7 linked regions of the Homo sapiens genome follow. The protein of the gene in region 3 purifies or fractionates together with the protein of the main gene of each other region. This does not show direct contact. Each region holds a gene or a part of one and is shown on either strand. Other genes may lie near its edges. The genes, in order: PGM1, ME2, USP46, OXSR1, CHORDC1, HEBP1 and NAPG.

Region 1 (4,214 bases), on a different chromosome or scaffold from region 3:
CCTTTACACCTCTTCTCCCTCCTGGCAGATGCCAGAGGCACTGCAGAGCTGGGATTTACTTTTCCTTGACTTCCCTTCTGTCTCTGAAGGCTTAATGACACAAACTTCTGTCCCACTCTGCCATCCCTCAGCTCCACTCCTTTTCTACACCCCTTTCTTCCTCAACCACAGGTCTCTCTTCTAATTATCTCAGGCATAATTTACAATCATCCAAACTGGACCCCAAGTTCTCACAAATGGCAAACAGGCACAAGGATGAGAAACCACTTGTGCTAGAAGTTGAGGAGGGGAGACTCCAGGCACTGAGGGTTGCTGTGGCCCATCCATCCATTCACTGCCTGCTCCCCAGAGGGAAGCCTCCAGTAAATCCCACGGCCCGGCCCTTCCAAACCCTATGAGATGCCTTGACAAGGACCAGGCCAAAAATCTGGGTCAATTGGAAAAAAGTAAACTGGGAGGTTGTAACAGAATCTTCATCCTGCTCTTTATTCTATTATGAATTGTGAGAGATGAGTTTACTCTGTGACAACAGGCAACAGAAGCAGAGGTGAGAGAACCCTGGTGCGTAAGTGTTCATGAGAAGCCAGGAGAAAGCCTGACCCAGCCTGCAGCCTAGGGTACCCGGCACACAGTAAGGGAAGCACTAACAATTCTGTCCACATCTAGAGATGCTCCAGGTCCTAAACTGTGGCGTCTTGCCAGGTACTGCTGTGTTAGGTGGGGTGCCACTCATGTGCTGCGAATGACGATGGTCAACGTTTCTAAGTCTGGGAATGCCTCATCTATTTTTCTCTCCTTTAGAAATTAGAACATACGAGAGAAACGTATAAGTATAATGCCACTTACATGCTGTCACTCTGCTATAATCTGCTGACAGAAAAGAGAGGAGTTGACATCTAAGTTCCCACAGTTCTCCCTCTTTCTTAGATTCTGGGGCTCCTTTCTGCATGTACAATGGACACATCATCTTGCATATCATTCCAGAGAGTGCAAAAATCCCTCTGGAGTCCAGGTTAAGAATCCCAGAATGAGGGTACTGGACAGTGCACAGAACAAGGGCATAAACCACTGTCCCAACGAGTGCATGTGAGAGTCACGTGGGACAGCAGAAAACCAGGTAAGAACAGCTACCCTAGAAAAACACAGCAGCAAAAGAAAAATAGCCAACAGGAACTTTTTAATTTTTCCCTTGAGATGTCAGAGATGAAGCTCTGAGGTCTCTCTCTCACTTACACACCGGTCTGTTTCTACCTGATTTCTTGAAATGCTTCCATCCACTGGGTCGCTGTATTCAAAGTTATCGGCCTTCTCCACAGTGTAAACTTTGTCATTTGCTGAGAACTGCTTCCCCACAAAGGAGCGATCAAACATCAGGGCCTCCAAGTCCTTCATCATTTTGTTTGCGCCCTCAGCTTCCACCTCCTCGTAATCATACCTGGAAGAAGTCACGAAGTTGAGGCCCACGGGCTGACTGCAGATCACACCAAGGCCTATCAGTCAGCACTTTCTTCATCATTTGTTTGGCCCTCCCGCAAAACTATCTAACTTCAGAAGAAGCTGGCAAAAAAAATACAGGCCTGTCAGTCACTGGGGATGGAACAGGCCAGGGATGAAAGGAAGGGTTTGGAGGATTTCAGGGAAGGGTTATGAGCTTCTGAATAAGCAGAAAACACCCATCTTGGCATTTCTACAGAATAAAGCTCTAAGATGTTTCAAAGGCTTTTGAAAGATGCTATCTAACATTTAGTCACCACATCCTGAGGAGGTAAAATGAAAAGCAATGTTATCTCTGGAGAACTCTCTTGAAAGGAGCACGTGACTCAGGCACTTCTCCTCCAAGCTCCCTGGGCTTCTCTGGGGTGAATGCTGGGCCTGCTCCCAGCCTGAGACCTGCCTGAGGCTGCTGAGATTTTGACTAAGCAGAGTTCCAGCTCCACAGGAGCTTCCTAAAGCAGGGCCAAGTTTTCACCGACCAGATGAAGACGCCAAACACTGACTCTTTACATCTAAAATGCCTTTTTTTTTTTCATTAATTTTAGTAAGTTTCAAGATACATGTGCAGAACGTGCAGGTTTGTTATATAGGTAAATGTGCCATGGTGATTTGCCGCACCTATCAACCCATCACCTAGGAATTAAGCCCCAAATGCATTAGCTGTTTATCCTGATGCTCTCCCAATTTTTTTTTTTAAATTTTGTTTTATTTTAAGTTCTGCCTCCCTCCTTTCAGTGGCAGTGGATTTTGGTCCAAGGTCCTTTGGGTTCACCCTGACAGAAGAGGCCCAGTGCGGATGAAAAAGGGCCAAGGAAAAAAGTGCATCACAAATGAAATTCTATAAAGATGAGTTTTCCTTCAAGAATTCTTTTTGACTTCTTTCTTATGATGTTAAAGACTTGTACAGGTGGCTTTTCTTGACCTAGTGGCATACACCCTCTTGAGAGAGTTATTTTTTAGAAGCTCAAGATAGCAGAGTCTATATTTATTTGTAATCGTGAAATAGATATCATATATGCAAGATGACACCTCTGAGACATGAGAAATGCTGAGGAATTAAGGCCAGCCTATTCTGGCTCCAGGATTCTATGAATCAAGGGCCAAACAGTCCCCTTAATCTTAAAGTCAGCTCTTTCCCCTAGTTAACATGATAAACAACAAGAAATTACAACCAGGTGTTTGTGCTTTACATTTTTGACCTCTGGGTACTCCAGAGAAATGTTTTCTAAACCCTAGGCACAGAGGGGTGGAATAGAAGAGTCTGGGTTTTGCAATCAGACAGATGAGCTATGAATCCAGCCTCTATTGGCTATTAATTGTGTGACTACAGGGCCAGCTGCCCTATCTCTCAGAATCTCAGCTACCTTATCAATAACTGTTTTGAGGCTAAAGTGAGACAATGCATGCAAAAGTGCCTAGCGCTTTTGTTCAGTAAGTGGAAGGTATAATGGAGTTTTAACTAATCATAAATGCAGGTACTAAGGATTTGATTTGTAATACTTGGTTAGCAATTATATTTGATAATTAATAAAATCATGTTAAAATAGTTTTTATATGGAGGATTGTGACTAATTCAAGGGTGTGACCCTTTCTCTGAACAACCCCTCCTAACCTTATTCTACTCTGGCTATTGTTCACCTGTTAACTCATTCATTTATCGGTTCAAAACGTATTTATGCAGTCTCTACTATGAGTTGGGTGCTTAGGGCACAAAAACAGACATGGCCTTGTTTTTATGATACTCTAGGTTCTAGACAGTTCATGACTGCTGTTCTGAATGACCAGGTTTTTCTGTCTGTTATAAAGTAGGGATTTTTTTGCCTTGGTTCCCAGGGCTACTGTGTGGTGTCAGGTAGTTATTACTTATTCCTTCCACAAAACAGTAACGTGAGAGAGAAAGAGATCAATGAATCCGTCCAAAGTTAATAAAATAATTCTGATTAAGGAGCTTAATTTACTTAGTTGAATTCTTTCTTGACTATCCAGAGATCACGGACTATAAAATCTGGGATATATTTTTTAAATTCTCTAGTCTAACTCACCCATTTTATAGAACAGGCAACTGAGGTCCAGAGAAATTACACCTATTCATTTCTTATACATAAACAATTCATCTAATATCCTTTTTACCATATTTTCTCTCTATAATTGGAATACTGAGGTCCAGAAAAATTCTTGTTAGATTTTTACACTAACTGGGGGAAAGGCAAATTGGAATTAGTGAAAAGTACTACTGTCAAAAATTTTTTAATGCTTTTTAAAAATAGAAGTACGCATGATAAGGAATAATTACTAAGTATTCTAAGTATTTTGTTCACTGCTGAATTCCAAGTACCCGATGGAAATCGGGTATACAGTAAATATCTGTTGAATAAATTAAAAAAATTATTGACAAGTATATAGCCCTTGGGGACCTATTTCACAAGGCAGAAAAGTCGATGTGGACTAAGCATAACTGTTTCTATAATTTATGAAAAAAAGTTTCTAGGCTTTCAGTGCCCCAAAGTTAACAAAACATTTTCAGACTCATTATTCATTTAATCCTCTCAACAGCTGGACTGTTATTCCCATTTCTACAGATGACAAAACTGAGTACAGAGAAAAGCTAAATGGCTCCCCAATCTAGTAAGGGGAAGAAATAAAATTCTAATCCATTTCTCTGAATCCAAATCCAATGTTATGATCATGTCCACCCAATGGACACATTTAAAATGCTTATA
Region 2 (4,214 bases), on a different chromosome or scaffold from region 3:
GAGTTTGAGACCAGCCTGGGCAAGATGGCAAAACCCCATCTCTACAAAAAAATCATCCGGGCATGGTGGTGTGTGCCCATAGTTCCAGCTACTCTGGAGGCTGAGGTGGGAGGATCACCTGAGCCCGGGGAGGTAGAGGCTGCCACTGCACTCAAGTCTGGGCGACAGAGTGATACCCCATTTCAAAATAAATAAATCAAATTAAATTAAATATGAAAATTTCTTAATTCCAAAACTCATCTACCCCAGATAAAGGACTGTAGGCTTTTGTGCCACATTGGACTTAGGAAGACCTCATAGTGTAAATGCATTTTTGAGAGGAACTAGAAAGTTTCTAGGAATAATGGTAGATTTGATTTTTGTTTTATATTTGAGTTTATGGACATGATGAAGATAGAGTTGGAAGGTATGGGTTGAAGAGGAAAGTAAATGAAAATGAAAAGACATTTCTATTGTAGAAACAATGTGTAACTCATAATGATGTCTTTTTATTTCATCTTTAATATGCATTGACTAAAAAAATACTGTATTTTATCTCAAAATTTAGGGACGGAAAGCAAAAATAGATAGTTATCAGGAACCATTTACTCACTCAGCCCCAGAGAGCATACCTGATACTTTTGAAGATGCAGTGAATATACTGAAGCCTTCAACTATAATTGGTAGGTAAAGTTTTTCTGATAAATAATTTTACTCCCTAACTGTATGTTGCCAGTCATCATTACCATGTAGGATTACTAAAAATGAATTGGCAGTTTTACCTAGCTTTCAGCATGTACAATGTTTTCTGTGATAACTTTTTGGTTACCATGCATGAAATTCAGTTACCAGATGTTGCTTTATACTTTTAGGTCCTAGACACTGTGTAGTCGATCATGATTTGCTTTTAGAGTTGGTATGACTGTTGGACTCAAAACATGAAAAAAACCAAAGCCATTTGCAGATTTTACCAGGAAAATTCTATGCAGACTCAAAGTTTTCGTGGGCAACAAAGCTGAAAACTTTGAGTGTGTTTTGAATCAGGCATTGCATAGATGCCATCAGACTATGTCATCATGGCATTACATTCTCAGCAGAAAATGTAAAAGTGTTTAAAAGAGGAGCTATTTAATTTGCTGTATAGCTGTAAGTTTTTTTGTTTTCTTGTTTTTTGTTTTTTTTTTTGAGACAGAGTCTCACTCTGTCACTCAAGCTGGAGTTGGCTCACTGCAACTTCCACCTCCCGGGTTCAAGCAATTCTCTTGCCCCAGCCTCCCAAGTAGCTGGGATTACAGGTACCCGCCACCACGCCCAGCTAATTTTTGTAATTTTAGTAGAGATGGGGTTTCACCATGTTGACCAGGCTGGTCTTGAACTCCTGACCTCAGGTGATCCACCTGCCTCGGCGGGTGAGACTCCATCTCAAAAAATAAATAAATAAAAATAAACAACCCCCCATTTTCCCCACTCCCCACCCCCTAACAACCACCATTCTACTTTTTGTCTCTATGAATTTAACTACCTCATATAAATGGAATGACATGGTATTTTTCTCTTTGTGACTGGCTAATTTTATTTAGCATAATGTCAAGTTTCATCCATGTGGTAGCAAGTTTTATCTTCCCAATTAGAGTGATGAAGATAGTCATATACTCTTTTTAAAAATTGGTTGGGCATGGTGGCTCACACCTGTAATTCCAGCACTCTGGGAGGCCGAGGCAGGCGGATCACCTGAGGTCAGGAGTTTGAGACTAGCCTGGCCAACATGGCAAAACCCCATCTCTACTAAAAATACAAAAATTAGCCGGGCGTGGTGGCACACACCTTTAATCCCAGCTACCTGGGAAGGTGAGGCACGAGAATCACTTGAACCCAGGAGGGAGAGGTTGCAGTGAGCTGAGATTGTGCCACTACACTCCAGTCTGGGCGACAGAGCGAGACTCTGTCTCAAAAAACAAAAAGTTAAAAGAATAAAATTTCCCATAATTTACTATGTGTATAGTAGACAATAAATATTTAAGTGAGAACTTTCAGCATCTTACTGTTTTTTCTTTTCAGATTTGAGATTGTGTTCTCATAGATTTTGCATTGCTGAGATAGTGCTATCTTTGTAATGAGATATTACCTGTGTTTTTATTATTGTAGGCCTATTGTAGAAATGCTATTGATAAGCATTGCTTTTATACCTATAATGAAGTTGCTGTTTTTCCCCCTTACTTATTACAGGAGTTGCAGGTGCTGGCCGTCTTTTCACTCCTGATGTAATCAGAGCCATGGCCTCTATCAATGAAAGGCCTGTAATATTTGCATTAAGTAATCCTACAGCACAGGCAGAGTGCACGGCTGAAGAAGCATATACACTTACAGAGGTATTAATAATCACATGAATTGATATGTATATTATTTTCCCTCCACTAGCTTATTAGTTATACATTCTTACACCATTGTTCTAATGGTTTCCCTAGAGATTACAGCATGCATCTATGGGTGATCAAAGTCTGATATTAATTATTGCTTATACCAATTATGGGAAACAGGTACTTTATAACTCCACTGTAATGCCCTCACACTGTTTGCACTATTGTTGTGAATTTTAATTTTCTATGTATTTTAAACTCAAAATACATTATTGTTATATTTTACAAAAATTATTCAGATTTACCTACACTTTAATTTATTTATCACTATTCTTCCTGCAAGTGCTTCTACCTAGGATCATTTTCCTTCTACCAGAAGAATTCCTTTATTTAAGTGTAGGTCTAATGAATTCTCTTGGTAATTTATTTTGCCTTCATTTTGAAGGATATTTTCACTCTGCATAGACGTAAAAGTTGGTAAATACTTGAGCATTTTGAAGATATCATTTTACTGTTTTCTGACTTTTGTTTTCTTTTTGATGATATAGCATTGTCTTAGGTTTTTAACAGTTTGACTATGGCGGACATATGCGTGGTTTTCTTTGTATTTATTCCACATGGGGATTATACTGCTCCTGAATCTATGGCTTGATGTCTGTTTTTGGTTTTTGTTTTTTCTGTTTTGAAAAAATATCAGCCAGTATCTCTACTTTGGCCACATTGTCTCTCTCATCTTATGGGACTCTAATTATATGGTTAGAGATATATCTCATTTATCTTTTACACTGTTTTCTATATTTACTATCTCTCTTGCTTTCTGTGTTTCAATCTGGTGATTTCCTTTGGCCCTATTTTCCAGTTTGCAGATTCTCTGTTCAGCTGTGCTCATCTGTTGTTAGGTTCTTAATTTTAGTTGCTGTATTTTTTCATTTGTAGAATTTGTGTTTTATCTGTATAGTAATTTATTAATTTAGTAACAGACTTAAAATCATGTACTGTAGAAATAATCAATCTCTAAATACTGCTTTCTTGTACTCACATTTCATGAAACTTTTTACTCTCTTCAAATGCATCTTCACCATCAGTGTTTGTCTTTTCTAAGGCTGTTTTTTTTGAGTCATCTGGCGCTGTGGAGAACAAATTTTTATTTACATCCGAACTGTTTAAGATTCACTACTTTTAGATCTTTGACACTACCACGGGATTATAGCCCAATTACAAATATCTGCCTATAAATCACTTGACATTTGGGTTTTTTTCCTACCATTCTGTAAGGATGTAGTTGTAATCTCCACAATTACTTTCTATATTGTTGTGGTAAGTGATCTAAGTGGCTCTAGGAAGTGATTTTTAAAGGCTTGTTTACAATGATGTCTAGCAGCTATAATTGCTAGACTACATCCTTGAGAGTAAGTAATAAATCTGATACATTTTTTTAATCTTCACTCCTTTAAAACAACGTTTTTTATAGTAGAAAAGTATTACAGTGTATCTCTCAAAAGCTAAGGATTCTTTTAAAAATATAACCACAGGGCCGGGCACGGTGGCTCACGCCTGTAATCCCAGCACTTTGGGAGGCTGAGGTGGGCAGATCACGAGGTCAGGAGATCGAGACCATCCTGGCTAACATAGTGAAACCCCGTCTCTACTAAAAATACAAAAAAAATTAGCCAGATGTGGTGGCGGGTGCCTTTAGTCCCAGCTGCTGGGGAGGCTGAGGCAGGAGAATGGTGTGAACCCACGAGGCGGAGCTTGCATTGAGCCGAGATCGCACCACTGCACTCCAGCCTGGGTGACAGAGCAAGACTCCATCTCAAAAAAAACCCCAAAAAACCATATATATATATATATATATATATATATATACACACCACAGTA
Region 3 (4,214 bases):
TCCTATGGTAGCTTAACCTTAGAGGGACCTACCTCTAGTTTGCCCTGAATAGCTCAGATTACACCTACAGATCAATTAATATTTTATAATTACTCTGAGCATTCTTTTCTCTTTGAAAAGTATCTGACTTGGGAACCCAATTAGACAGTTTCCTGTTGTCCTGTCATCCACTACAGCAATGATTAGAAGAGTCCTGTGGGCCTCTCTCTACCCGTGTCTCCCAATACCACAGAAACAGGGCCACAGGGCCCCCTCACCACCACAGCACCCAGTCAGAACCAAACCATGCTGTGAATTTGGCCTCTGCTTTTGCCAACTTCCTTCCCCAATGTCACTCCTCCCAAAGTGCCCCACTAAATGTGGACAGCAGGTCAAAATGGAAGTAGAATTTCACTGGATCCTGAAATACCAACAGCTTTGCACTTTGAGCAAACAGAAGGAAAATAATGATGAACTAAAAGAGTGAGAATAATTATGAAAACTAACAAGCATGAAGGCATCATAGCTCACACAGTGCTTCCATGGGCAGGATCTCTTCTGATGCTCCCCAAAAAGCTTTAAAGAAGGTATTTCATTGACTACCTTTGTTGTAAAAAGATAAATAGGATCTGAGATTTACCAAACAGGATTCTGAATTCCAAACTCCTCCACTTTACAACTATATGGAAAATAGAAGTTGTTTTGTTTTTCCCAAAGCCTTGCTGCTCTAAAAATGGTCCCGAAACCAGCATTATCTGTACCACCAGAGAGTTTGTTAGAAGTGCAAAATCTCCGCCCTGCCCCAGACGTGCTGAATCCAAATTGACATTTCAACTAGACCTCCAGCTAATGCCTATGCATGATAAAATTGGAGGCATACTGCTTTACTCCAAGGCAATTCTTCCATTCTACCAAATTACATCCCTTCATTCATTTATCAATATTTATTTATTGAGCACCAACCACATATGTGCTAGGCACTGTGCTGACAGCTGGGAAATCAACACTGAATAATACAAATAAATACAGTTCCTGCCCTCATAGAGTTGTCAGTCTAACATGGTGGTTTATCAACCTTGGATGCTCACATCGGAATCAACTGTGGCACTTAAAATACACACACACACATACACACGCAGGTGCCTAAAATTCACCCCAGACTACCTATATCTACATACTGTCAGAAACGCTGGAGACTGGGACCCTAGAAACTGCATGTCAATAAAGCTCCAATTGGTGGAACCACTTTGGAGAGCAATTTGACACACCTAGCAAAGCTGCAGATGGGCGCATCCTAAAAGCAGCATATTGACTTCCAGGATTATACCCTAAAGAAATGAAGACACCTGAGCAAAGAAGACAGAAGCAAGAACATTCGCTGCAACACTGTTTCCAGAGAGAATATTGTAGAAACTACCAAACTGCCCCTAAATAAGAGAATGAATAAGTAAACCATGGTTAAGTCAAAGAATCCTGTTACAGAGCAGTCAGAATGAATAAACTCGACCTCTATGTGTTGACATAATCTCAAATATACTTGTTGAGTAAAGAAAGACAGTTGCAAAAAGCTACACGATTTTATCCACACACAAACGTTGCAATCCATTGCTTATGAATTCATAAATACAAAGTAAAGTATAAGACATGTTTGGTAAACACCATATCAACTTCAGGAAAATGGTTTGCTCTGGGAGGAAGAGAAAGGAAAGAGATTGGGTTGAGTTAGTGTCTGTTTTTAAGGTAAAAGAGTCTAAAAAGAGTTAGTGCTGTTTTTACAGTAATATGTCTAAAAATAAAAGTAACCAAATATGGCTACATTTTAATATCTGTTAAATCTGAAGGGTAGGTAAACATATATAACATTATTTTTTCATGCTTTTTTGTATGTTAATGTTTTGTGATTTAATTATTATTTTTAAAATTTCTTTTAAAAGCTTCACAGGTGATATGATATAAAGCCAGTGCTGAAAATCTCTGTTCTGAATATATAAACTAATACAAAACCTGGCTATTTAATACCAAGAAAAAGTTAAGTTGGCCGGGTGCAGTGGCTCACGCCTGTAATCCCAGTACTTTGGGAGGCCAAGGTGGGCGGATCACGAGGTCAAGAGATCAAGACCATCCCAGGCAACATGGTGAAACCCTGTCTCTACTAAAAATACAAAATTAGCTGGGCAAGGGGGCACGTGCCTGTAGTACCCTACTCAGGAGGCTGAGGCAGGAGAATCGCTTGAACCTGGAAGCAGAGGTTGCAGTGAGCTGAGATCATGCCACTGTACTCCAGCCTGGCAACAGAGTGAGACTCCATCTCAAAAAAAAAAAAAAAAAAGAAAGAAAGAGAAAAAAGAACAGAAAAAGTTAAGTTACTAGCTTAAATAATTTTACATTCATTTTTTTAAAAACTTTCACATGGCAGGTAATTTCTTAAGCAATATTTTTTAAGAGGCTGAGGTTATTACCCAAGGGAAGCAATATTTCTCCAAGCATGGTCCTCAGCTCACCTATAACAGAATGTGGAGGGAGTAGAAGGAGGAGGGAACACTAATTTAAAAGGCAGATTCCAGAGCCCCAACTAAGACCTACTTAATCAAACTCTCTGGGTGTTGAACCCCAGAGTCTAAATTTTTAATAAGAGAATGCACATGTGGGAACCATTCTTTGGTACACCAAAGAACCTAAAACCATACATTTCTTTGTTTAATGAGGTAATACTCATCATACTCTGAAAATTAAAATGAAGTGTAGAGAATACTTTCTAAATATTTAAGACAGTAATTCCACCAGTATATATTCAAGCAGATCCAGATAAAAATTTTCCTGCACTGTGTACCTAACCTGAAGGACAGAGAAATGTATTTTAGGAAGATGACCATCGTTTCACAATGCCTTTCTAAAAGAACTTGAAAAAGCAACTGGGTAAACAGGAAAACTCTGCAAGTCCAGCTTTGCTGCTGTTCTCACCAGAACAGGCCCCAGACACGATTTTCACTAAAGCCAATGTCAATTAAACAAAGCAAATGTGGCTTGAACAAGGCCTTGCTGGCACAGGCAGGTCTCCCAAATTTACTCTCAAAATTCAAGGTATCTTCTCAGTGCTACTCTATTATCTTTTTGTTACTAGTTTTCACCCCTCCACAGTGATTATCTTGTCATCATTTTTTTCACCTGCATCTTCCAATCCATCCCTACCTTTCATGACTTTTGCTTTGGTCTCCTTGATTTTCCTCTTCACTGTCCCTTCTTCATTGTCCCTGTTTTCAGACAAAACCAAAACTACAATCCTGACTTTCAAGACCTGGAAAACTGTTCTCAGGCCCCTGAGTTGAAAACAAACCAGCATAACAAACACATGAAAAGATGTTCAACCTCCCCTAGCAAACAGGAAAAGTGCAAATTTTAAACCACAAAGGCACAATGTCACACCCATCAGACTGGCAAAACATCAAGTCTAGCAATATCAAATATCTGCAAACATGTGAAGCAACTGGAACCCCCAAACGCTGCTTGGTTGGAATGCAAATTGGCATAACTTCTTTGGAGAGCAATCAGGCAACTTATTAAAGAAGACGATCAAATTCCTTTGACCCAGCAATTCCCTTCCAGGTTTACACCACAGAGAAACTGTCAACTGTCAACTGTGTATACTATACACAGGGAGATGAGTTCACAACTGTTCATTGCATTAAAACAGCACACTCACAAATTTGTAAACCTGCTTACAACATTAAAATGAATGTGTCATAGCATATTTATATAATGGAATGTTATACAGCAGTTAAAATAAACTAGGATTATGTGTCTCTCAATGGATAAATAGCAAAATCACAATTTAAACAATAAAAGCAAACTGAGAGGAATGTTTAATATTATAAAGCATGTTTAAAACATGAAAAAATACACTATATCTAGTTTATGAATGCATACAAATCTAGTAAAAATATAAAAATATACAATAAACACTAAATGCAGAATAGTGGTCACTCTGTGGGGAGAGGCAATGAGATCAGGAAGGACTCATAGGTGGTTTTAAATGTATATATAGTATTTTATTTCTTCACTGGGTGGGGAGTACACGAGTATTCACTCTATTATTCCACATTTCTGTATGTCTAAAATTCACCATCACTCAGAAAAAAAGGCAAAGTCTGAGCTAATTTAAAAAGTATCTGAGGGTTCTAAAAGTGACATTGGAACTTGAGGAAGAAAAGGAAGGTTGGCCCTATGAGGGTAAAGTG
Region 4 (4,214 bases), on a different chromosome or scaffold from region 3:
CAGCCCAGGGCACTGGGGAGGCTAAATGAACACAATCCACCACATTTTAATATTCTCATCACTCAGGGGATATAGAAGCTGGTCTGGAGAAGCTGCCAGTGTATAAAAGGCAAGATGTTTTCACAAGGAAGAAGGGATGAGTACCAGTTTGAAAGTGACAGATCGATTTGACTGAGGTTCTTCCACAATTTTCTGCAAATTAGCTGCCACTGTAATCATACAAACAGAGAAGGTAATGAATGAGAAGTTACATAAATCCACTTTCAACCATATTTTAAAAGCTTAAATGGTAGTTAAGAATATGCTCCGTACAATCAAAATGGAAGCAGACAGATCAAATAATCACTCCCCTAATGAAAGTGTCTTTTAAACTCATTTCTGAGTAGTACACCTTGAACCACTGTCAAATTAACTTTCTTTAAAATGTTGTATTAACCTAGGAAAAACATGCAGGTAAAAGAGGTATGATTTCCTGATTTATGGATCAGAAAGCCCAAGGCCAGAAGTCAACAAACCAGCCTGTGGTCTGTTTTTGTTCTCCGGCAAGCTAAGAGTGGTTTAAAAGTGACAGACACTGTACATGGCCCGCAAGGCCTAAACTATTTATTATCTGGTTTTTCACGGAAAACTGTGTCTAAGGACATGGTCTTTTCCTTCAGTAACATGGACCTGTGGCCTCACTGGGCCTTCTCTCTTCCTTCCTGCTTTTCTAGTACTAAATCTCTAATGACTTTTGCTCAACTTGGGCCACAAAAATTAGGTATCCAAAACAGATCAGATATGGCCAAGCTTACTTTAACTTGTGACTTTTGCCATAATTTCTATTAATCTCCTAAAGACCTTGGGTGTGCTTTCACTTACCATCATTGGAGGTCACAAAGCAAACTCAGAGGTGAAATTTTGTGTGTGTGTAAGGAACTGTCCCATTACCTATAATTTCAGGAAAGCCAAGAACCATTTCAAGAACCATCAGACCTACTCAGTGGAATAAAAAACCTGCTTTTCTATGTACTAAGTATACAGACAGAGACACAGGAGCACATGAGCAGAACGCAATGGAGTTACCTATTACTAAATCCCTTCCGTCGACCAGGCCAGCAGAAATGAGTTCCTGAGAGACACCCTCTGCTGTATCTGCAAGGACAAAGAAGACAGTGCTCTGTTTTTTGTGCGTGCTTGCCACTGTTAACTCTCACAGCTCATGTGGGTGTCAGTGTGCCATGCTAGGCCCAAGCTGGATGCTAAATCCACAGAACCAAGAAGGCAGGCAGGGCCTTCCTTCCATACAAAGACTTTTCCTACCACTGAGATTATCTCAAGTGGAATTCTCACAGATCTAGCTAGAGGGCAGAATCTGTATAAACCAGGTAGCAAATATCTGAGACATGATGTTGAATACTGAACATCTCTAGGGCTAAAAAACCAGAATGATTTATTCTCAAAAACTAAGGCAACAATTTTTGTCTCAAAAAATTTTTGTCTCTTCTCTTTGGGAATCATACTCCAAGTTTTTTGCTAAAATCATTTACTTTTTTATTCTGGTGGGCTTTTCTTCTTATCTAGTTATTCCAGGTGGTACAATCTGAGCAATGGGTATAACCAGAAACTAAAAAGATGAGGACAGAATATCCCCAATTAACCTCATCTTCAACCAACTCAGTGGTATTGGTTGCCAAGGGCTTGAAAATGAGCCCCTCAGAGGGAACAGGAGGACTGCGGTGGAGACAGTGTCCACACATTCACACAGGCAACCAGCAATTTGAATTAATTCCTGAAAATGTGATGTTGCCTGGTGTTTAAAAAGTAAAACAGGTGACACCTCTGTACACCTGCATCTTTTCTCTTTAGTGGTTAGTTGCTCATGATAGTGAGACAGCAAGAAGAATAAGCATGATACACAGAACAGATACTTGCTGGCTACTCCCCAAATTAGAACACTGAGTAATAAAGGCAAGAAACAAAACACACCTTGTTCAAGGTGAAGTTCAACAGCCAGAAACAGTACATGACAGACCTCAGCTTCTGTCTGAGGAGAGAGGAGACTGCAGACCTTGTTTCTTTACCATCATGGAGAACAACCATGTATAAAGAATGAACTTTGGATTCTGACAGATCTGGTTTGAATTCCAGCTATACCTCTTTCCAGCTGTGTGACCTTGAACAAGTTACTTTGCCTTTAAGTCTTGATTTCATCATCGATACTATGGGGATAATAATTTTTCCTTAGTAGACTGCTGTGAGAATTTAATAAGATAACGCTTAAGACAATGCCTGGCCTATAGTAAGCTGTAAAGAGCTATCATATATTTATTACTGTTTGTATTATTATACAAGGTTTTCTAAATGTGTTTAGTAGTCAACGAACTGCATTTTTATCTCACTCATATACTCGCCAAAACCAGGAAAATTTTTATTATCCTTTAAAAGCAAAACTTCACAAAGGACAGAAACTTCACAACACATTTCATTGAATCACAAATTGGAAGCTATTTTGTTTTCAATCCATTTGATGCCTCACCTCTCCCAGGAGTAAATTCAAATCGAATATCATTTAGTTCTTTTTTGGAATTCCTATGAAAGAAAGCAGAATGCATAAAATAAGAATTTCTAAATTTATGCAAAGAGATTCTGCCAACATATATTAAGAAAGCTGTGCCTCAAGAAAGTCTGTTTTGTTCCCATAGATCATATGATGTATTCAGATATGTTCACACTGCAGAGCTCAGAGCAAAACCAATTCGGAATGACCATCTAATTGTCCTACAACCCTTTGAATCTATGTCCCTTACTGATCAATATAAAAATTTCATGCCTTTGAGTAGATTCTTATATGCCCACTCCCATCCTTATTCCCACACCAAGAACATATAAAACTAAGAGGAAAATTGTATGAGCACAGGGAGGTGTGATTAAAATGATACAGGATGCCTTTTTCATCCTTATCCCCACTCCTACATGCCCACAATTCATTGCCTACCTCTGGTGATCAGTCTTGGCAGACTCATAAAATGAAATACATGATACTCCCTCAAATTCCATAGGAATTCAAAGAATATATGAGAGATGGGGATAATAAGGAAAAATTTTAGAGGTAGTTTTTATATAGGACTTAACAGATATGCAGGATTTAGGTAGGCAGAGAGGATAGGGAAAGGAATTGGGTCCATACTGGTAGCAGAGTTACTATATGACTCCAGAAATTCAAACCTGACTGGTGAGGTACAGTTACAGTGATGATCACACCATGCACTGAGATTAAGCAGGATCCCTGGAGGTTTTGTTTAAAGACAGAGAAATGAGAACACTATATCTAAGGGCAGATATGCCTGCTCACTTAGGACTCAAATCTATTTTATATAAATAATGGAGAGGGTTTACTTCTATTTGATGAATAATATACTTGAGGATGTTACTGAAATTGTGCTTAAAATAGAACTACCCATCTCAAATATAACATGCCCCAAATGATTTTCCCTTGCATTGCGTTCTTTCTACACAGGTACATACAAACTTATACTTCTGCATGTATATACTACCTGAAATTTGCTTTTAGCTGTGTAAGTACATAGTTCAAATCAACTTCCAACCTAGACTTGATTATTAAGGGAGTCATTTAATTTTCTCTTTTCTCAGTATCCACCTTTCCACAGTACCGAAGAGTGCTATACATAGTCTGTGCTTAATACATTTCACAATAATTTTCTTAAAGTGTTATTCTTTATGTAGATTTAAAACAGCATGAAGTTGTCAAGACATCCTAGTAACTCAGAATTTTTGAGATGAGACCAGGTATACTAAGTAGGCTTCTGTAAAGGAAAGGTAACCAAATATGTTTTTCACATTTATGGCATAAATGCATTGCTCCTAGTGGCAAGGAGCAATGAGATTCTCCTTACCACATTCTCTTAAATAGCTCTTGCTGCCTCTATCTCCAATTAGGACCTTACAGAAAGATGACTAGGAATTTATATGTGCAAGGGGAATGAGTTAATGGTAATTCAGTGGAACTCTTTTTTAAAATGTTAGTAATAGTTTTAAAAGGCCTGAGTTGCCTCAAGTGATACTTTAATACTAATTTTTTTTCAAATGCATTTATGAGTAGAAAGAGACCTAACTAGAGCAATACAACAGCCATAGTGATTCTGACAAGAAAGCTCTGGAATTTGAATCCAGCTACTAGTGCTAGGGGCGGGGGGGGCGGGGCAGGGAGTTAA
Region 5 (4,214 bases), on a different chromosome or scaffold from region 3:
TCCATTCCTTAAGTGATCTAAAATTTAACATGAGGAAAAAGTATAAACCTGCCCCCACCCCATTTTCACCTTGTTGGTTAATGGTGTCACCAATCACCCAGATGCTTGAATTCCCTTCACATCGAATCCATTAGCAAATCCTGCTAATACAGGCAGATGCTCCTTTGCTTACAATGTGGTTATAGCCTGATAATACCATTGTTAAGTCAAAAAAATCTTAAGTTACACCATGGTAAGTTCGGAACCATCTGTACTTTCTGTACTTTCAAATTCTATCATTCATTCTACACGCACTGTTCTAAGGATTCAAGATACAACAAAGAAAAAAAATCCCTATCCTCACAACTTTTACTCAGCATGGGGGTTAGATGGTATAGCTCAGAAGTAAAATAAGTATACAAAATAAGTAATATAAAGTGATTAAGAGCGATGGAGAAAAAAGGAGAGGGAGAAGAAATGTTGGAGGATATGCAAGTTTTATATCAAGTAGCAAGAGGCAGGAAAATGGCTTACTGGTATGTTTGACCGCATCCCACATTTAATCACTTCTCAACAAACTACTCTCCAATCCCACTGTCTGGTCTTCCACAATAGCATCCTAGCTGGTTTCTCTTCTTCCAATTCCACTCCTGCTGCATCACCATGTATTTACCATTCACCAGTCACAGAATCTTTCTAAAACCCTTCCCTAAAGCAAGTAATAGCTTCTCCTAATACTTAGAATAAAGCCCAAATACCTCATCATGGCTTAAAAGAACCACCATAATTCTGTCTACCTGTCTTACCTGCTACCCTTGCCCAAGCTCCACAGACCTTGTTATTCCTTGAATAGCCAAGTTCTAAAGCCTCTGCTCATGTTACTGCATCCAGAACACTCTTCACCCAGGTTTACATAATCCATCCAGTGCAACATGAAGATTTCTGATTTAGTGTTACTATGTCAAGAAGGGCTTTGCTGATAAGCACTCCTTAGTATGTTTTATTTTCTTCCTATCATCCTGATTTTGTAATATCTAACTACCTATTTGTTGCTCTTCTCCCCATTCTAGAATATCAGCTCCATAAGAAAAGAAATGTTTGCTTTATTTGATACTATGTCTCCAGCCCATAAAATGTCTGGCACATAATAAGTGCTCAGTAAATGTTAAGTGAATTGGAATTACTTATTTTCATTATTCTACTGGACATGATGCTACTCAGAGTCTCTTATCCATGATTGTAGCCCTAGTCCCCAGCATAATGTTCAATATATAATATGCATGCAAATGTTTGTTGAATTGAGTCAGCAAACTGCACTTTCCTCAAAATTAAAATTTTACTTCATAACACATCACAAATCTTGTGATATATACCTTTGAACACCCTCCATTCTTACATGAGGTCCCAATCTTAATTTCATCATTGTCTTCTTCTGTAACAAAGAAAAAAAAATCAAATTAAAAAGTTAAAATAGAACTTCGCTGTGGCATCATTCTTAAAAACTAGGTTTTTCCAGAAAACAATACTTTTTAGAAAACGACTGTGACTAGGATTTGCTTATATCCCCAAATTGATATATGACACATTTCTTCTTCTTTTGAGGACCTGGTGTCTTCAACAATGCAGGACACAATTTTTTCCATAACAAAATGTTATATCCAGTATCTTAACTTTGTAAAATAAATCATGAAAGGGTGTTTTCCTCCCATGGTACCAGGTATAAAGTCAGAGAATAGTGAATATATTTTGTATAATGTACAAGAAAACATTTTAAAATATCAAAGAAATTTAGCTGATTCTTAAAAAAATAATGAACCATAAAAGAAAAAAAATTTAATATAGGTTCTCGTTTTGAATAAAGACATATGGAATTAACCTATTAGGTTCTGAAGTATTTGTAGTTTATCATATCTGACATTTAGAAGAAAAAGTTTCTTAACTACAATGTGCGACTTTTCCCTATTTATATGCAGTAAACTACTATTCTCTCTTTTGGATAACTGCTTAACTGTACCAGAAAATAATTAACAATAAAACAAAATAAAATCTTACCTTTCTTATTTTCTTCATTCCCTGATGACAGTTTAAGTTTATCAAGTGCTTGTTTTAGGGAGGCAGATATTTTTAATTCCAAATTTGTCATTGGTTCATCTGGGCTGGAGAATTTTGAAACCTTATTACCATTATTAATATACCAAAATATTTCTTTGTACTCCAAATTAATAACCTTAAAAGCTTTCTGAGAAGCCAAATGCTTTGTGTATCAAATGATTCCCATTAAAAGGTTAAAAGGTATTTTATAAATAATTGTTACAATGTATCTACATTCTGTCTTAACAGAAAAGCTCCTTATATTAGAATAGTAAGTCTCAAATAATCACGCTATTGTCAGCATATTTAAGTATTAATCAGTTGCACTAACGAGAAAGGAATAAAGACTAGGAATCCAAGGTTTTCAAGATGAGTAATGCTGAGGAAGGGACCATAATGTACTTTTACATCCCATGCCCAAGCTCAATGCTGAGCACATAATAAACATGAAATATAAGTAAGTTCTAAGTGAATCCATACTCACTTCTACCAGTGGAGATAATTTATGTGGACACTGGCATATGGATCTGTAAATTCAGATACGATCGTATTGCAAGGCAATTTCAGTAGGGTTTAAAAAACAACATCTTCTAACATTTCATAATGGCTAAGTGTTGTATACATAATTTAAGTCCACTCAATAAATAAGTATTAAACATATTAATAAACACAGCAATAAAAATAAAAATCGTAGGCTATTCATTCTATATCCTCGATGAAAAAACTGACAAAAGAGGCATTTTAAAAGTACATAGGCAAGGCATGGTCGCTTATGCCCATAATCCCAACACTTTGGGAGGCTGAGGCAAGAGGACTGCTTGAAGCCTGGGCAACAAAGTGGAACCCTGTCTCCGCAAAATAATAAAAAATATTAGTCGGTCACTGATATGGTTTCCCTGTGTCACCAACCAAATCTCATCTTGAATTCTAGCTCCCCTAATCTCCACATGGTGTGTGACAGACCTAGTGGGAGGTAACTGGATCATGGGGATGCCTTTTTCCCATGCTGTTCTCATGATAGTGAATAAGTCTCAGAAGTTCTGATGGTTTTTTTCTTGCCTGCCACCATGTAAAACATTCCTTTATTACTCGCTCTACCTTCTGCCATGATTGTGAGGCCTCCCCAGCCATATGGAACTGTGAGTTCATTAAACCTCTTTTTCTTTATAAATCACTTAGTCTCGGGTGTTTCTTCGTAACTGTGAAAATGGACTAATACAGTCATAGTAGCATACACCTATAGTTCCGGGGAGGGTTAGGGAGGAGGATGGCTTGAGCCCAGGAGTTAAAGGCTGCAGTGAGCTATAATGCCACTGCATTACAGCCTGGGTAAGAGAGGGACTTTTCTTCTTAAAAAAAAGAAAAGTATGTAAAAACTGATATCCTCATAATTGTTATAATACCACCAAATGAATTTAGGATAAAATATTTAGTTTTTCTCATCTCACTGCCTTTGTCCTTTTTTTTCAAAAAGTCAATCTCAAGATCCTCCTGCCTCAGCCTGAGTAGCTGCAACTACATGAGCACACCACCAAACCCAGCTAATTTATTTTTTTTGGAGAGACAGGATCTCTTTCAGATTGGTTCTCAAACTCCTAGGCTCAAAGGATCCTCCCTCCTAGGCTTCTCAAAGTGCTGGATTATGGGCTTGAGCCACAGTGCCTGGCCTCTCACTGCCCTTTAAGTAAAATAACAGCCCATCATTTAAAGAAAAAATTAACTCATACTATTATAGTACAGACTGTATTATATTACTAAAGAGATTAAGAATGAGCCATGACTGAAGTTTTGTCTTTTCCCAATTATTTTTCTAACTGCTAAACTGGCCAAAGCATTCAATGGTCTCCTCTAACTATGAAGATGGAGAGAGAATAAAATCATCCTGAGTAGTTTCCTTAGCAATAATCTGTACTCAGAGTGCTAATGAACAAATAAACATCTAAAGTCTCTTAGGGTTCTTATCTTGGTTCTATATTATTCAATACTCTATAAATTTATTTAAGTAGGATCAAAGGAGAATAAAGGGAAAATCATGAGTTCATAGCATGAATAAAAATTACAATAAGTGCCTACTTGCAGCCAAAAAAAAAAAAAAAAATCACCTTTTTTTAAGTCCTGTAGTTTGCTTCTAAAACAATTTAGTA
Region 6 (4,214 bases), on a different chromosome or scaffold from region 3:
AGGTATTTACAGGTATTATCATATTTTATCCTCACAACACCATAAAAGCTAGGTACTCATGCCCATCTTACAGATGAGGAAACTGAGGTACAGTGAGGCTGGCAATATACCAAAGGTCCTATGGCCACTGAATGATGAACTGGGTTGGAGCATAGGTTACCCTGAAAATAAACTCCTGGTTTCCAACTTTTTCCTTTATATCTAGACATTTCATTTAAACCGTGAAAGTTTCATTAAGACCATCAAACTTCTCCTGCTGTTGGTCCCTATTGAGAACCTGGTGCTGAAATGAGCTGAAAAGGCCAAACTCTAACTTAAGTGCATAGAGAAAGGACAGTAGTCTGGAATGTTGCTGCTGGTCTAAGTGTGAGGATAATTCTATTGCCTCTTGTGAATACTAAACATATTCTGATAGTGCTATTTTTTTTCACAGCATTCTATTCATCTAAAAGCACCGGTAATTAACGATGCTAATAAATGTATAATCCCTTTGTAAACATCTCTTCACAAGGTCATAAAGAAGGAAGACTGAATGAAGGACGCCAGGCTTTCATTTTAGAATTAATTTTGTCATTGAATGCACTCACTGCATTATTTGATAGAGTACTTTTGCATTTGAAGTAGTACATTTGCCTTCTACCATCTCATTAACATTGCTTTCAACAGAATCAGAAATAACACAAACCACTGCAGGGTAATTTTGAATGCTCATTTGACTATGCAGTGACATCAAGTGGCGAGTTGAGGAATGATCATATGCTGTGTGAGAACTCCGTGTTAAAAATTCCATGGAGCCAGGCTAGACACCACATTTGGCACTTTCAGCTGTTTAGATTTCAGAGAATTAAAAGGAAATGGTCACCGACCTGCCTTTGATAGTACCCGTATACCCCTTCCCACCATAAGAAACCAGCGTTCCTTAGAGAAATGGCTAATTCTAGCTCTAGGGCAAGAAATGCTAAGATGTGCTCAAAACATCTCATTATACCAGCAAGCCAGGGAGCCATCAACGACTACTGGAGCTGTGTCAAAAGGACCAACAAACCAACTTGAAGAGGCTCCCGCTGGCCAACAGTGGGGCAATTAGAGCATCAATAAGAATAATATCTGTAACAAACTGAAACGTATCAAATATGTTTAAATTCATATGTTTATAATTACACTCAAAAAACGAAGATGCAGACCACTTTACCTTGAGGATGTTACAGAATGAAATTATCATTCTGAAAACTGGTAAATAAAGAGAAGGTATCAAGTAAGCATGTATCTGGCTTTTTCTATATGAAATAAAGGAAGCCAAATAGTAAACGAGGGGAAGTTTCTCTTTACTGAAATATTGCAGGTAATAAAAGAAGAAGGAGAAACAGAGAACATTATCGTTTTATGGCCTCTAATGGAACAAGACATCTAGGCAATGATGAACTATGGTCACCAACATCACTCAATCAGGGACAATCAGACACTGTGGGCCCCTGAAGGAAGTAAACACCACCACGTAGGAAATATTCTCACCAAAACTTCAAAAACTTGAATCTGATCTAGTCTTTAGTTTCAACTACTAATTTACAGGCAATACGGGGCTCAGAGGGATGTGGTAAAATGTCACGGAAATATAATCAGCAAAATCCAGTACAGATAATAAGAAGACAAATGATCCACAGATGGAAAGGAAGAATGTAAAGTTGTGTTGGTAAAGAAATTCACAGATTAATAAAAGCTTAAAAATGTACCATCAGCCAGGTGTGGTTGTGTGCAACTGTAGTACCAGCTACTTGAGAGGCTGAGGTGGGAGGATTACCTGAGCCCAGGAGTTTGAGGCTGCAGTGAGCTATGATCACACCACTGCACTGCAGCCTGGGCAACAGAGCAAGGCCTTGTCTCTTAACAACAACAACAAAAAGAAAGTACTACAAAATCTGACTTGGATCCAGATTCTAACAAAATATTAAAACAAATGATGGCCAGGCGTGGTGGCTCACGCCTGTAATCCCAGCACTTTGGGAGGCCGAGGCAGGTGGATCACAAGGTCAGGAGTTCAAGACCAGCCTGGCCAAGATGGTGAAACCCTGTCTCTACTAAAAAACTACAAATATTAGGCACAGTGGCAGGTTCCTGTACTCCCAGCTACTTGGGAGGCTGAGGCAGGAGAATTGCTTGAACCCAGGCAGCAGAGGTTGCAGTGAGCCAAGATCGCACCACTGCACTCCAGCCTGGGCAACAGAGAGAGACTCCGTTGGAAAAAAAAAAAAAGTAATGGGGGAAATCTGAGCATTGAATATTTTATATTATAAATTAATGAAGTACTATTGAAATTTCAGAAAAAAGGTATTGTGATTATATTTTAAAAAAATCTTCAGTAATTACCTGAAATATTTATGAATGAAATAATATAATGTCTGGAATTTGCCTAAAAATAATCCAGGGTAGGGCTGGGTGAATGCTGTGAAGATACACATGACACAGAATTGGCCTTGAGCTGATCGTTGCTGTAGGTAGGGGATGGGCACATATGATTTCATGATCTTATATGCTTCTACCTTTCTATAAGTTTGAAAATTCCCATACTAAAAAGTTAAAGACAAAAGAAAAAAAAATTATATCCACTCATTACTCAGGGTCTGGTAAAACAAATGATCAGAAACTAGCCCCATCTGCTTGAAGTCTTAATGTGAACTGATTCAATCATGTCTATCTCATTCCTTATGAAATAAGAATGAACAGACAGAAGGGGTAATTGCCAAAACCTGCTTCAGGTCATAAACATTAGGTAATACATAAATAGTATCTTAGTAAATACTGAAAGATATTTAACAATAATCCTATAAGGTTACATTACATGCACACACACACACATCATATATAGGAGGTTATATTATCAGCACTTAACAAATGCAAAAGCTAAGTCTTAAAGTGGCTAACTTCCCAAGCATCATTCTGCTAGTAAGCAGTAGAGCTGGAATTCAAATAAAATACAAGTTCATTTTATTATACCTGCTGCTTCCCAAACACAGGAAATAGAATGGAAAAGACAAGCAGACATCTAACCCAGGGCACAAGATTTAAGGAGGCGCTCACTCTCAGTCCCCATCCTGCACTTGGACAGCTGTGAGAGTGAGTGCTTCCTTAAATGCTGCACCCAAGGTGCATCTCCACCCTAGGAAAAGATATTGTTAAGTTAATTTGCTTTCTCCACACCCTCTGAAGGGAAGCTGGGAAGTCTGAATGAGGACTGCAGGACAAGCACAGGAGCTGAGGCTCCGGTGCTAGCTCCCAGCTGCATTACATTCACTGTCCTCTGGAGGGCCCTGCAGTCACCTGGCCTAGGACTACACACAGCGGTGAAACTCACATTCTCAGAACATTGACACAGCTCCGGGGAAAATGGTCCCACCATCAGGTTCAGGGTTGCAGCAGGGCAGCCAAGTTTGGAGGTCCCTGAAGTGGACCAATACTCAGTCCAGTGCAATATTATATGTATGTGAATTTTTCATGAGGTTGCTCCTGAGCGGAGCCAAACCACCTATGATTACTTCTGGTGAAGATCCTGGTCTTTCCCTGAGCCTGGTTTGGTGCCTGTCACATGGGAGTGTTTTAACAAATGTGAGGAGTCATCAATGATCTAGAAGACTTGGTTTCTGAGGGCAGTTTGGAGCACAAGGGATAGAAACTAGTAACCATTTGCACCTGCTATTCTCTACAGTCAAGGGAAAATGACCCCACATGAAGTCCTGGAAACAGGACCAGGATGACAAGAGAATAGATGTGTGCTCTGCTCAAAGGACTACCATCCAGGAACAACAAGGAGGATGGAAGCCCAGCTCTAGCAAATGCTCCCTGCTCTCTGGCATTCAAAGGGAGTGTGGGGTAGAAATCAGGTATTCCTCAGCCCTTTATGCTTCCCATGTGTCCACGAATCCAGACCATGGCTTGACTTAAGATATTTGCTGAGTCTCCTAGAACCCTGCTATGGCTAATGTAGACATTCACTGTAAGCTTAAGCAAAGCTTAAGCTCGTCCCATCAATTTGGCAACTGGCCAAGGCATTTATTCTGATAAAATGCAAATGTGTGTGTGCTGCAGCCTGAAGAAATTAAAATGAGAAACTGTTAGGATTCAGCATTTCCTACTTAAATTAATTCAGCAACCATAAAAATTTGACGCGAATGCTTGCCAGAGGTGATGCAAGGAGTGGTACGGGAATCAAGCGCCACCCA
Region 7 (4,214 bases), on a different chromosome or scaffold from region 3:
GGAAAACTTGTTTTTCAGGGACCTCTTTAAAACAAAAAGACAAGACTTCTATGCAGAGACTTGTCCATCTCACACTCACTTTCCAGCTCGCTCCAAAGCCATGGCTGCTGTGTCTGGGGTGCCGTTTTCTAGATACATCATGCTGGCCTTCTCAATTAGCTGAACGGCCTCTGGTAGTTTCTGCATCTCCTTTGGGCAAAGGATACAGTAGACAGGTCAGCAAATGCATCAATTAAAGAAAAACAGAGTTAACAATCTGAAATGCAATTATTTTTTATTTTAAGTTCTGGGACACATGTGCAGAATGTGCAGGTTTGTTACATAGGTATACATGTCCCATGGTGGTTTGCTATACCTATCAACCCATCATCTAGGTTTTAAGCCCCGCATGCATTAGGTATTTGTCCTAGTGCTCTCCCTCCCCTTATTCCCCAGCCCCCGACAGGCCCAGGAGTGTGATGTTCCCCTCCCTGTGTCCATGTGTCCTTGTGGTTCAATTCCCACGTATGAGTGAGAACATGCGGTGTTTGGTTTTCTGTTCCTGTGTTTGTTAGTTTGCCAAGAATGATGGCTTCCAGCTTCATCCATGTCCCTGCAAAGGACATGATCTCATTCTTTTTTACAGCTGCATAGTATTCCATGGTGTATATGTACCACATTTTCTTTATCCAGTCTATCACTGATGGGCATTTGGGTTGGTTCCATGTCTTTGCTATTGTAAATGGTGCTACAATAAACATACGTGTTTACTGTATAAACATACGTTTCTATAGAATGATTTATGTTCCTTTGGGCATATGCCCAGTAATGGGATTGCTGGGTCAAATGGTATTTCTGGTTCTAGATCCTTGAGGAATCCCCACACTGTCTTCCACAACGGTTGAACTAATTTACACTCCCACCAACAGTATAAAAACTTTCCTATTTCTCCACAGCCTGGCCAGCATCTATTGTTTCCTGACTTCTTAATCATCACCATTCTGACTGGCGTGAGATCTCATTGTGGTTTTGATTTGCATTTCTCTAATGATCAATGATGATGAGCTGTTTTTCATGTTTCTTGGCTGTATGTCTTCTTTTTCTACAAGGAACTTAAATTTACAAGAAAAAAAAAACCCAATCAAAAAGTGGGCAAAGGATATGAAATACAATTATTTTATCCCTAATTCATGAAAGTAAATGACTCAAATACATTGTATAGCAATAAAGATATTTAAAATGAAATGCTTCACATGATTACTCTCCCAATCAAGCTTCATTAAACCCAATCAAAAAGGTACCAGGTAATTTCTACACAGAGTTCATCATCACTTCACAGACCTTTGGGAAATCTATGAAAATAGAAAAAACCAAAAACCTTGCTCTTTACTGTTTTCTAAGCACTTCTTATTCTTTAAACATTTACCAAGTCCCTACTACATACAAGACCTATGCCAAGGATCACAAACTGGCAGCCCAATGACTCTATCTCACTTCCAAGTGTGTTTTGCTTGATCCATGCAGTATTTTTAAATTAGATACTTTCATGAAAATTGTTTTATGGCTTTCTTCAAAAAAATATCAAAAGCTACGGCATCAGCAGGCTTGCATCCCTGTATGGCAACAGGCTGGGGCTGGGCAGCACTGTCCCGCCACATGAGCATGCACCTCCTGGCGCTTCTCCCCGCTCTTCACTTCCAAATGCCCTCCACGTCCCAGCTGCTCATTCATTTTAGTTATTCCTCTACACCCTGAGTTCATCTGAGTTTGCAACCCTCTTCCATGACTAATAAATTCTGTATCTTACTATTAATCTACACATCTCAGGATCATGCAGTCCTAATGTCTAATATCTCCAAATCAAACATTTTAAAAATAAACTTAAAAAAAAACACCGTTTAAAAGCTAGTTATAAAGTTTACATAAGCAACTTATTTAGTGTTGACTTGCTGTATCTTAAGGTAGGCTCCACACTGACATCTCATGGGTGGTTTACAAATCTGCCTATTCAGTCCCTTGCTAAGTTGACAAATTCATTAGGATACCCTTAACAAAACTGGTCTCATTTTCGCCAACCCCAAAACATAACTTTATTATTTAGCTATGGAAACTAACAATAACACAGACTGAAAGACACTGTATGAAATAAGACTGCTATCATTCACTCAAGCAGAATGAAATGCTAATGCATTTCCAAACCTCAGTGAAAAAATAAAAACAATACTTTTTTTGTTATAAAACCAAAAGTCAATGAAAGAATCCGAGTCTACAATATCTGCTGAAAAATATCTGAATGAACAGGGGAGGTAAACCTAACAAAATCTCTCTCAGACACATTAGTCCTGAGGGTCATTTTGGCTTTTAAAGAATACAACTGAACCTTGAACAGCAGAGATTTAAACTGTGCTGGTCCAATTATACGCAGACTGTCTTGCTCCTCTGCCACCTGAGACAGCAAAACCAACCCCTCTTCTTCCTCCTCCTCCTCTTCCTCCTCCTCAGCCCAAACGTGAAGACTATGATGAGGATGAAGAGCCCTATGATGCTCTACTTCCACTTAAAGAACACTAAATATATTTTCTCTTCCTTACGATTTTCTTAATATTTTCTTTTCTCTAGCTTTATTCTAAGAATACAGTATAAAACATATTCCATACAACATACAACATATGTACTAACTGACTGTTTATATTATTTATAAGACTTCCAGTCAGTAGTAGGGTAGTGGCTCACGCCTATAATCCCAGCACTTTGGGAGGTTGAGGCAGAAGTATCACTTGAGCCCAGGAGTTTGAGCCCAGCCTGGGAAAAACAGCGAGAACCAGTCTCTACCAAAAAAATTAAAAAATTAGCAGGGCATGGTGACATGCACCTATAGTCCCAGCTACTCAGGAGGCTGAGGTGGGAGGATCGCCTGAGCCCAGGAGGTTGAGGCTGCAGTAAGCCATGATTGTGCCACTGCAATCCAGCCTGGGCAACAGAGCAAGATCCTGTCTCAAAAAAAAAAAACAAAAACAGGCTATTAGTAAAGTTTTTGGGGAGTAAAAAGTTATATGTAGAGTTTCAACTGCACAAGGGGTTGGCATCCCAACCCTTGGGTAGTTCAAGGGTCAACTGTATTTCCTCCCCAAATATACCTACCCACTAATTACATATATAATGTGAATCTACAACATAAAAGCATTTGGGAGGATAAAAAAACCACAGGAACTATTCGTCATGAGTTTTACCCAGTAGATAGAGCAAAAAATACATTAGAAGGCAGTAAAAATGGCATCCGAGTCCTATTTGTTGTTTAAAAATTAGCAACTACATCTTCCTGTTTTTGCGTAAAATCAAGTGAGGCTGTGAGTAAGAGGTCCAACCACAATATTGATACTTCTCCATAAAAAATGATGAGCTGCCTACTTGAAAGTTATACCCTCCACCATAAATATGCCTATTTTCAATGGCTGTGTGCCAGTGGAGCAAACAGGATATGAAATCACAGCAGTCATCAAGTGACAGAACCAAAGGTTGATCCAACAAGTTTCTGTGGCTTCCCTTGTGCATATGTCTACAAAATGGCACTCCCCAAGCCTTTCTGGTGAATCAGTGTGAAGGTTTGTATGACAAATTGGTAGAAATTTTAGCCCACAGAATTGTGGACCACGTAGCTCAGGGGTCCTGTGCTCCCAACAGTGTCCAAAGGCATTTAATTTAAATATAAGACAATGCCAGAAAGCATTTTCCTTCATCTGTTTCCCTATCCACTAAGTTAATTTTCTTTCATTCAAAGTAGTGCCTTTCCAACCCTCAAATTAAATAGATACTTGAGCAATGGAAATGATGCCTGAATAATAACTTTTGATGAAGATTCAAGTCTTAGTACAGCTGTTGTAATATAAACTGAGGCTGTGAGAATTAGAGTGTTTGAGCATTTCTTAAACAGGCATGAAGTACACTAAGAATGTAACAGCCACCTGGGAGCTTCCTAATTCTCAGAGGAAAATGAGACATAAGAAGACCAGAGCAGATCCCCAGCTTCTTTGGCCGTAAGAGAAACTCTATGGTTTCAAAGGAACTGTGGTTAATAACCTAACTTGCGGCACCAAATACCAATTCAGTTGCATGTTTGGCCAGAAAAGCTTTATTTCAATGGATATATAATAGTTTATAATAAGGAAGCATCATAATTTATTTAAACACTTTCCTATTATTATTATTACTTTGAGACAGAGTCTCGCTCTGTTGCC

The links.
Region 1: the proteins of USP46 (region 3) and PGM1 purify together in Homo sapiens (co-immunoprecipitation; one large-scale study listed by IntAct). This does not show direct contact.
Region 2: the proteins of USP46 (region 3) and ME2 purify together in Homo sapiens (co-immunoprecipitation; one large-scale study listed by IntAct). This does not show direct contact.
Region 4: the proteins of USP46 (region 3) and OXSR1 purify together in Homo sapiens (co-immunoprecipitation; one large-scale study listed by IntAct). This does not show direct contact.
Region 5: the proteins of USP46 (region 3) and CHORDC1 purify together in Homo sapiens (co-immunoprecipitation; one large-scale study listed by IntAct). This does not show direct contact.
Region 6: the proteins of USP46 (region 3) and HEBP1 purify together in Homo sapiens (co-immunoprecipitation; one large-scale study listed by IntAct). This does not show direct contact.
Region 7: the proteins of USP46 (region 3) and NAPG purify together in Homo sapiens (co-immunoprecipitation; one large-scale study listed by IntAct). This does not show direct contact.

Annotation. Positions count from the first base shown.
Region 1 is NC_000001.11:63,648,890-63,653,103, reverse strand, and holds part of PGM1 (phosphoglucomutase-1), read right to left. Parts: intron 1,436-4,214; coding exon 1,252-1,435; intron 1-1,251. UniProt on the Homo sapiens protein: Catalyzes the reversible isomerization of alpha-D-glucose 1-phosphate to alpha-D-glucose 6-phosphate. The mechanism proceeds via the intermediate compound alpha-D-glucose 1,6-bisphosphate.
Region 2 is NC_000018.10:50,923,551-50,927,764, forward strand, and holds part of ME2 (NAD-dependent malic enzyme, mitochondrial isoform 1 precursor), read left to right. Parts: intron 1-547; coding exon 548-662; intron 663-2,205; coding exon 2,206-2,348; intron 2,349-4,214.
Region 3 is NC_000004.12:52,648,802-52,653,015, forward strand, and holds part of USP46 (ubiquitin carboxyl-terminal hydrolase 46), read right to left. Parts: intron 1-4,214. UniProt on the Homo sapiens protein: Deubiquitinating enzyme that plays a role in behavior, possibly by regulating GABA action. May act by mediating the deubiquitination of GAD1/GAD67.
Region 4 is NC_000003.12:38,248,323-38,252,536, reverse strand, and holds part of OXSR1 (serine/threonine-protein kinase OSR1), read right to left. Parts: intron 2,572-4,214; coding exon 2,519-2,571; intron 1,135-2,518; coding exon 1,066-1,134; intron 210-1,065; coding exon 145-209; intron 1-144. UniProt on the Homo sapiens protein: Effector serine/threonine-protein kinase component of the WNK-SPAK/OSR1 kinase cascade, which is involved in various processes, such as ion transport, response to hypertonic stress and blood pressure.
Region 5 is NC_000011.10:90,209,184-90,213,397, forward strand, and holds part of CHORDC1 (cysteine and histidine-rich domain-containing protein 1), read right to left. Parts: exon of another isoform or gene 4,173-4,214; intron 2,136-4,172; coding exon 2,032-2,135; intron 1,412-2,031; coding exon 1,353-1,411; intron 1-1,352. UniProt on the Homo sapiens protein: Regulates centrosome duplication, probably by inhibiting the kinase activity of ROCK2. Proposed to act as co-chaperone for HSP90. May play a role in the regulation of NOD1 via a HSP90 chaperone complex. In vitro, has intrinsic chaperone activity.
Region 6 is NC_000012.12:12,982,911-12,987,124, forward strand, and holds part of HEBP1 (heme-binding protein 1), read right to left. Parts: intron 1,733-4,214; exon of another isoform or gene 434-1,732; intron 1-433.
Region 7 is NC_000018.10:10,535,737-10,539,950, reverse strand, and holds part of NAPG (gamma-soluble NSF attachment protein), read right to left. Parts: intron 1,019-4,214; exon of another isoform or gene 980-1,018; coding exon of another isoform or gene 977-979; intron 190-976; coding exon 80-189; intron 1-79. UniProt on the Homo sapiens protein: Required for vesicular transport between the endoplasmic reticulum and the Golgi apparatus.